2 linked regions of the Homo sapiens genome follow. The protein of the gene in region 1 purifies or fractionates together with the protein of each later gene. This does not show direct contact. Each region holds a gene or a part of one and is shown on either strand. Other genes may lie near its edges. The genes, in order: ZDHHC22 and ARL6IP5.

Region 1 (4,563 bases):
TACCAATAAAATACAGCATGTCCGCTTAATTTGCATTTCAGATAGCCAATAGCAAATTTTCTCAGTGTATCTCATACAATATCTGGGACATAATTATACTAAAAAATTATGAGTTGTTTATCTGAAATTTTAATTTAGCGGGACGGTCTGTATTTTTATTTGCTAAATCTGGCAACTTTTGGGGTTGGGGTTTGGGGCCCGGCAACCTTTGGGGTGGGAGGTCTTTGTGTAGAGCCCAACCTGCCCGCCAAGGCCCACTCACCGGAGAAGAACTGGCTGATGGAGGTGGGCAGGAGCGTGAGGAAGGCCAAGGGGTGGGCGAAGGAGATGGAAAGGACAGCGGAGATGTAGGCCACGCCGGCCACCATGGAGTAGAGGCAGGCCAGGGAGGTGTAGAGGCAGAACAGGACGAAGTTGCGCATGTTCCTGCTGCCGATGCAGTTGCCGGTGAAGAAACAGTGATGGTCGTGCCTCAGGGTGACTCTGGCGCACACTCGGCAGAAGTGGGTGCTAGGTGAGGGGCATGGAGTCTTCCTGGCCGAGGCCCCCTGGCAGGCCCCCAGGTCGTCTGGGGAGTTCTGGATGACAAGGACGTAATTGCCCAGGGCGTTGGCCGAGAGGAATAGGAAGAGCGCCCCGTGGAGCAGGGCGGGCGAGAAGAGCCGGGCGGCCGCGGGGTCCTCGCGCATGCTGGGCAGGAAGAGGAAGAGCTGCAGCACGAAGGTCACCAGGGAGATGCACAAGAAGTAGGCGGGGGCCACCACGTTGAGCAGCCGCAGGGCCAGCATCCTCGATTACATTCCTGCGGGGCCCGGGGTGAGAAGAGGACTGACTGACTACGGCGTCCAGGGGGCGCCCTCGCCCGCTCCTCCGTGCCGCGCGTCTGGGGCACTGCACGCGACTCCACGCCCCCAACCCCCTGTCCCGCGGATTTCCCCTCCCCAGTTCCCTAACCCCGGATCAGGCAGGCCAGAGACCCGAGCCCGCAGCGGCCTCGGGTCTAGGCCCCACCTGGGGGTGAGTGTTGCCTGGGGTTTTGAGCGAGCTCGGCGCCTTGGCGCGGCAGAGTCTGGCACAGGAGGGAGGGACTCGTTTGCAGTCTTTAGGAGTTGTGAGGGTGGGGGGCACCGGGGGATAGGACTCCTCCCCTCTGTGGATGTGGAAACAAGCCCAGGTTTGGGATTTCTGGTTCAGACCTCCCTAGGAGGAGAAAGGGAAGGATTTGGGGTCGGGGGCAGGAGAATCAGCGGCACTTGACCTGCTGGAAATCCTGCTTCACACTCCCCTTTCTCCGTCCCTGCGTCCCCACCCACACACACATCTTGGGCAGCACTCAGGGACCTCACCAGGTTACCCAAGGCTCTTTGGAGGTATGTGTGCGTGAGGGACCACGATGTGTGTGTGTGTGTCCTTGTCTGTGACTCTGTACGTGTAATCTGTGTGCGCTTGAGTATCTGTATTTGTGTATGTATATATCTGCGTGTACAGACACGCAGCCTCTGCTATCTAGCTTTAAAAAAATCAATTGAAACAATCGATACACTCACACTCGCTCTCGGGCACCGGGTGAGGTGGGGGCGCAACCAGAATACCTGTGTCAGCGGGTCCTGGCCAGCACATCTCTCCAACGCTGGCTGCCCGGGCTATTTCTTTGCGAAGAGCGTTTTCATTTGAGGCGAAATTAAAATCCCCCCTTCGCGCCCGCCTCCCGCCCTCCTGCTGAGAGAAACCCAAACAACCCTCATGGCGCCGAAATCCTTTCCATGCCGACAAGCCCGCCCTGGGCGCACGAGTGGATGCTTGGCCAGCCTTTCCTGGGATCGACCCCGCCGCCGTGCTCAGCCCTCACCACGTCCCCATCCCACCCCACGCCTCACAGCCGGGGTTCCTGGCCAGCTTCGGAAGCCACCGAGAAATAGGATTCCGTGCGCCCGAGAGAACTTTTCCAGGGGCTAAGGAATCGGCCAGCCGGAGGCGCGAGAAAAGTTCTGGGAAGGCGGTTGCACCTAGGATGGGTGGATGCCACGGGGCCTCCGTCCAGGCTGTCCCGTCCGCACGGGTCGACTGGTCACCTTGGAATCCCCTTTGCAGGTCCCAGCGCCCCCCGGGAACCCGCAGCCTCCGCGGAGAGCGTGGGCCTCTCCCTACCGCTGGGGCGCAGCGCAGTGCACGCCTGAGGGTGGTCGCCGGGGGCTGGGCACGCCCCCAGTCCTGCGCCGCCGGGGGCTGCGGCGGTGCTGCCCACCCCAGAGAGCCCTCGGCCTGGGGCTCCGGCGAAGCAAGTGCCTTCCCGGCGCCGGTCGCCAGGGGGGCGCGGGAGCAGCCAGATGCGCCGCAGCGCTGGGAAGGCGGCGAAGGACAGGGGCTAGGGGAGTGAGGGGCGCTCGGCAGGCAGCCTCAGCCCTGGCCCTGCGCGGGAGAAGGGACAGCAGAGACCGCCCGTGGGGCCCCGGGGTGTAGGGAGCTGTCCGTTCAGCCCTGGCGCCCGCCTCGCCCGCGGCAGAGGGCGGCACAGCCGGAGCCTTGGAAAGACCGGCAGCGCCGGCAGCCGCGGGCTTCTCGGCCACTGCCTCCCGGACGCACGGGAAGCCGCCCCCCGCGCCGCCGCCGCCGCACTGCCGCCGTCGCAGAGGGGTGAGGAAATCAACTCACCGAGCTCTGGTCGCCGACAAGAGGAGCCCCGGACGCCGGCTCTCGCCCTGCCCGAGGCTGCAAAGTTGTGGACTCGGCCCGGCTGGCTCGCAGCCTGCGCTTCGCTTCGGGAACTGGGCAAGTAGCGGGGATGTGGGGAGGAGGGAGCGGGCAGCTGCTGGCTTCCCACTTGGGCGCCAGCGAGTAAGGGCCAGGAAGCGGCGGGGATGGCAGCTGGGCACCCCCCAGCCCCGCCACCCCTCCCTCCGCTCCTGGGGGCGGTGCTCTGGCCGCCAGTCTCAGCATCGTGGACTTGCCCCCTCCTCCCCTCTCGATTCCCCTTGAGCGGGCTGGGGCGCCCTGCCTGGTTTCAGCGCCCGTTCCAGCTGGGAGATTGGGATTCAGCCCTGATGTGGATTCTCCAGCCATCATCCTGCCCTTCCCTCTCGGCTAGGTCCCACGACCTTCCCTGCTCTCCACTCGGACTGAAGGAACCCTGGGGGCTTGAGAGGTCAGCTTGCCAGGGCAACACCCATGAAGATCAGCGTCATCTCCTCGGAAGGGCTGTGTACAGAGGGTTGGGAGTTGGGACTCTGGAGCCTGTCTACCTGGGTTTGAATATTCACCATTCACTACTGTGAGATCTCAGATTCCAGTTTCTTCGTCTGTAAATTCCAGTGTGATCTTAGATTCCAGTTTCCTCATCTGTGAAATAGAGATATGAGGGTTAAATGACAATCTATGTAAAACCCTTAAACAGGGCCTGCCCAGGGCAAGCACTGCTTGATTAGATCATAATTAGACACTACTTATCGGGCCCCTACTAGGTAGCAGGCATTGTGCTAAGCCTTTAGCATAAGATGCTTCCTTAATCCTCTCAGCCTGATCTGTGAAGCTGGCTGAGCCCCATTCTGGAGATGAGGAGGTTGAAGCTCAGAGAAGCTAAGTCTCATGTCTAAGGTCATACAGCCATTAAGTGACAGAGCCTGGACTTGAACCTGGTTCTAGCATTAATGCTCCTGCACTCAGCCTCTACACAGCCCAGCATCACCCTGGGACCCACGGGCAGCTCTGATTTGAGAGAAGGAAAGACAATGGGAGTTTATCCAGACACAGAGCTTGAACTTGGAGCTTCTTCTTTGAGCCTCACCCCCACCTTCTTATTTCTATTTCCTTCCCCTTCCAGGGCTCCGCTATTCTAAGGTGGGTACTGTGATGCGCCAAGAGGGTAGTGACACCAATGTGTATCAAACAGTGGGGGGTGGGGGGAGCAGAGCCTTAAAAACATCAAACACTGCAGGAATATTGGTGCCATCACCATCCTCAATTTCCTGGGTGTCGCAGCTCACCTACCTGCCCTGTTCCTCTCCTCTCGGTGATGGCATACTTAATAAATAAACATTTATTGCTTTCTCAACTGGCTGATTAAAACAAGAGCAATCCCTTGAAATGAGGGCCATATGCTGATCAGCTCAGCCTCTATTCTTGAATAACCACACACTGTTTCCTCTGTAATTTATCAGCATACATCAAAATAAAAAAGAGGCCAGGAAACCTTTTCACATTCTAAAAGGATCTGACATGTAAGTGAAAGAACAGTATATGCCACATGGTGGCCGTGAGCAGCTGGTAGCCTTGTGAGTTCCAGTGGCCACAGGACAGACATGGGGAGGCACACATGGCCCTTTTCCCTTCAGAGCAGCTTTGTCTCATAATCGTGGCCGTCTGGGCCCCTTTTCACAAGCTCTGTCTGCCTCTCACATGGGCTTGGCAGGGAGGGAGGCTGGCTGGGGTGCTTGGGTTTGGGTATACTGACTGAAGATCTCCATTCCCCAAATACCTTGTGAGTCGGGTGGTATTTCTAATTTTATTTTGCATATGGGTGTGAGGTGGGAAGGTGTGTGTCTGAATCTGTGTGTATGAGGAAAGGGA
Region 2 (3,809 bases), on another chromosome or scaffold:
GTTTTACCATGTAGGCCAGGCTGGTCTTGAACTCCTGACCTCAGGTGATCTGCCCGCCTCAGCCTCCCAAAGTGCTGGGATTACAGACATGAGCCACCATGCCCAGCCCAGGCCCAGCTAATTTTTGTATTTTTAGTAGAGGTGGGGTTTCACCACGTTGGCCAGGCTGGTCTCAAACTCCTGACTTCAAAAGATCCACCCACCTTGGCCCCCACAAAGTGCTGGGATTACAGGCTTGAGCCACTGTACTCAGCCTAGAAACTTCTACTTCTGAGCTATCTAACTTATATGATAAATCTACCTAACAGACAATGCATTATGTATTACAATTGCTTTTACCCACTCAATATATAATGTCTTCCCATATTATTAAATGCACTTCAATGTTTTAAAAATAGCTGTGTATACAATACCACAGCTATTGGTATTGTTGGCCATATAGGTCGTTTCTGAAAGTTTTTAATCATAAATACCACTAATATCAATACTGTTACAACTCAATCTTTGCGTTTTTGTTTAATTCCTTAGACTATATTCTGAGGAGGGGATTTATTGGCTTGAAGGATACAAGTATTTGCAAGGATTTTGAATGAAATTAGCAACTTATTATTGTAGAGTTTAGTTTTAAATTATGTACAACTGGCTGGGTGCGGTGGCTCATGCCTGTAATAGCACTTTGGGAGGCTGAGGGGCGGGGGGGGTGGGGGGTGGATCACATGAGGTCAGGAGTTCGAGACCAGCCTGGCCAACATGGTGAAACCCCGTCTTTACTAAAAATACAAAAATTAGCTGGGCATGTTGGCGGGTGCCTGTAATCCCAGCTAGTAGGGAGGCTGAGGCAGGAGAATTGCTTGAACCTGGGAGGCAGAGGTTGCAGTGAGCCGAGATCGCGCCATTGTACTCCAGCCTGGGCAATGAGTGAAACTCCATCTCAAAAAAACAAACAAAAAAAAATTATATGCAACTACTCTTACCACTGTTTAGCTTTGTGCATCTTAATAGAAATTTTTAGCTTTTTCAAAGCAGTTTGACATTGATTTTATCCCTTAATTTCACCCATTCAGGTGTGAAAAGCTTTTACTCTTAATTTTAAAATGTTCAAAATTCCTTTTATGTTTCAGTAGGCAGAAACAGAGCTAAAATTTAAAGGGATTTTTGAAAAAGAATTGTATTTATCCTGAATACGAATCCCAATATGAGCATGAGTTCTTCATCTCTTCCATTTCAGAGAAAGTAAGCTCTTGGCATCACCCTCCCTTATCCTGTCTTCCCCCTTCCCTCATTTCAAATCAGCAATGTTACTATTCAGGGCATGAGGAGAACACACTATCGTCTGTGTCCTTCCCAAGTAAAGTCCTCATTAGCCTCTAGGGTAAAAAGTTAAGTAACTCATTGTACCAGCCCACCACAGACGTCTTGTTAAGGGTTTTGTATACACAGTGGATTGGGGTGGGCGACTATAATGCCCAAAACTTTGTCTAAATTTCTTCTTCTTATTATCATTATTGAGACAGAGTTTTGCTCTTGTTGCCCAGGCTGGAGTGCAATGGCGTGATCTCAGCTCACTGCAACCTCCACCTTCTGAGTTCAAGTGATTCTCCTGCCTCAGCCTCCCAAGTAGCTGGGATTACAGGCATGTACCACCACGCCCAGCTAATTTTTGTATTTTTAGTAGAGATGAGGTGCCACCATGTTGGCCAGGCTGGCCTTGAACTCTTGACCTCAGGTGATCCACCCACCTAGGCCTCCCAAAGTGCTAGGATTACAGGTGTGTGCCACCATGCCTGGCATAAATTTCTTCTACATAATGTGTTTCCTCCATTATCAATAGTAGTGTAATTGCTATTACATACTAAACATTTGGCTTATATAAGAATGAATCTGGAACTGTGTGCTTGAAAATCTGCATTGGTAACTCATCTCCTAATGATACTTTGGGCATTTTAAAACACTTATAATGAACTCTCTATGTGAGGAGTCATAAACTCAAATGCCTCCATGGGGCAGGCAGGTTATGTAAGAGAGCGATTCAGGCCAGCTATTAGAAAAACAATGATTAGACTGGGCATGGTGTGGCTCATGCCTGTAATCCTAGCACTTTGGGAGGCCGAGCTGGGCAGATCACTTGACGCCAGGAGTTCAAGACCAGCCTGGCCAACATGGCAAAATCCCACCTGTACTGAAAATACAAAAAATTAGCTGGGCGTGGTGGCATGTACCTGTAATCCCAGTTACTCGGGAGGCTGAGGCACAAGAATTGCTTGAACCCAGGAGGCAGAGGTTGCAGTGAGCCAAGATTGCGCCACTGCACTCCAGCCTGGGTGACAGAGCAAGACTCTGTCTCAAATAAAAAAAAAAAAAAAAGAAAAACAGTGATTAATAGCACCTCACTTTGGGCCTATGTGTCCATGATGCAGTAGAGAGCAGTGTGGACTGGAGCTCAATGGAGACTGTTTATTCTGTCTGAATGAGAAGGCACTCAAGCCAGCTGTTGACATGTGGGAAAGTGGGCCTAGCACTGTTATTTTCTTGTTCCAGGAGAACAAGAAATCCCAAGTTTTCTGGATTTTTTTTTAACACATGGGTTTCAAGTAAAAGTTTTTTAAAACACTGTACAGGCCAAACAAAAATGTGACTGTATACTGGATCTAGCCCATGGAGGCCATTATGTGGCCTGTATTCTACATTCGTCCATCATGAGCTTCTCTGAGGATTTAAATAAACCTTTAGAGCTAAGAAAACACAACCTACTGTGTACTAGAGCCCAGGATGTAAGGAAGCTAAACATAGTACCTTCAAAAGAAGTTTTAGTCTTCAAAATTGTGGACCTCTAACGAGATACTTTGATGGGAACTGCCTGGGTGTGATCTCAGCTCCACCTTTTTTTTTTTTTTTTTTTTTAATGAGATAAGGTCTCACTCTGTCACCCAGCCAGGAGTGCAGTGGGGGAATCTTGGCTCACTGGAGACTCAACCTCCCAGGTTCAAGTGATCCTCCCACCTCAGCCTCCTGAGTAGCTGGGAACACAGGTGTGTGCCACCACACCTGGCTAATTTTCATATTTTTGTAGAGATGGGTTTTGCCATGTTGCCTGGGTTGGTCTTGAACCCCTGGGCTCAAGTGATCCTCCCACCTTGGCCTCTGAAAGTGCTGGGATTATAGGTGTGAACTACCATTCCTGGCCTTCCCCACCATTTTCTAACCTCTGTGCCTTAGCTTCTTCATTTGAGAAATGAACTAATAGTATCTCCTTTATAAGGTTATGAGAAATCAAATGAGACAATTTAGATAAAGTATTAAAGTATTAGTAAGTTCTCAATAATTGTTTTTACTCCTCTTTCTCCTTTTGCTACTTCTATTGCTGAACTAGTCACCCCTCATTTTTTCTTCCTCATATTTCAGGTTTCTGAGTCCCTTCAACATGATCCTGGGAGGAATCGTGGTGGTGCTGGTGTTCACAGGGTTTGTGTGGGCAGCCCACAATAAAGACGTCCTTCGCCGGATGAAGAAGCGCTACCCCACGACGTTCGTTATGGTGGTCATGTTGGCGAGCTATTTCCTTATCTCCATGTTTGGAGGAGTCATGGTCTTTGTGTTTGGCATTACTTTTCCTTTGCTGTGTAAGTGAACTTGAGTTTTTTCTTCCATCATCAAAAAAATGTAGAAGCAATTATCCAACGGGAATTCCATAACCCATTTCTTATATGTGTTGGCATGTCAGCAAAAGTGTCAGAATTTTCTAAAACAGCTTTCTACTTGTTATCCAACTAGACCCAGATAACACAGAACTGAGGTCAAGAACTATGAGG

The links.
Region 2: the proteins of ZDHHC22 (region 1) and ARL6IP5 purify together in Homo sapiens (affinity purification with mass spectrometry; one large-scale study listed by BioGRID and IntAct). This does not show direct contact.

Annotation. Positions count from the first base shown.
Region 1 is NC_000014.9:77,138,951-77,143,513, forward strand, and holds the start of ZDHHC22 (palmitoyltransferase ZDHHC22), read right to left. Parts: upstream 2,842-4,563; 5' UTR 2,653-2,841; intron 1,795-2,652; exon of another isoform or gene 1,593-1,794; intron 803-1,592; 5' UTR 789-802; coding exon 263-788; intron 1-262. UniProt on the Homo sapiens protein: Palmitoyltransferase that could catalyze the addition of palmitate onto various protein substrates and be involved in a variety of cellular processes. Catalyzes the palmitoylation of KCNMA1, regulating localization of KCNMA1 to the plasma membrane.
Region 2 is NC_000003.12:69,098,437-69,102,245, forward strand, and holds part of ARL6IP5 (PRA1 family protein 3), read left to right. Parts: intron 1-3,402; coding exon 3,403-3,620; intron 3,621-3,809. UniProt on the Homo sapiens protein: Regulates intracellular concentrations of taurine and glutamate. Negatively modulates SLC1A1/EAAC1 glutamate transport activity by decreasing its affinity for glutamate in a PKC activity-dependent manner.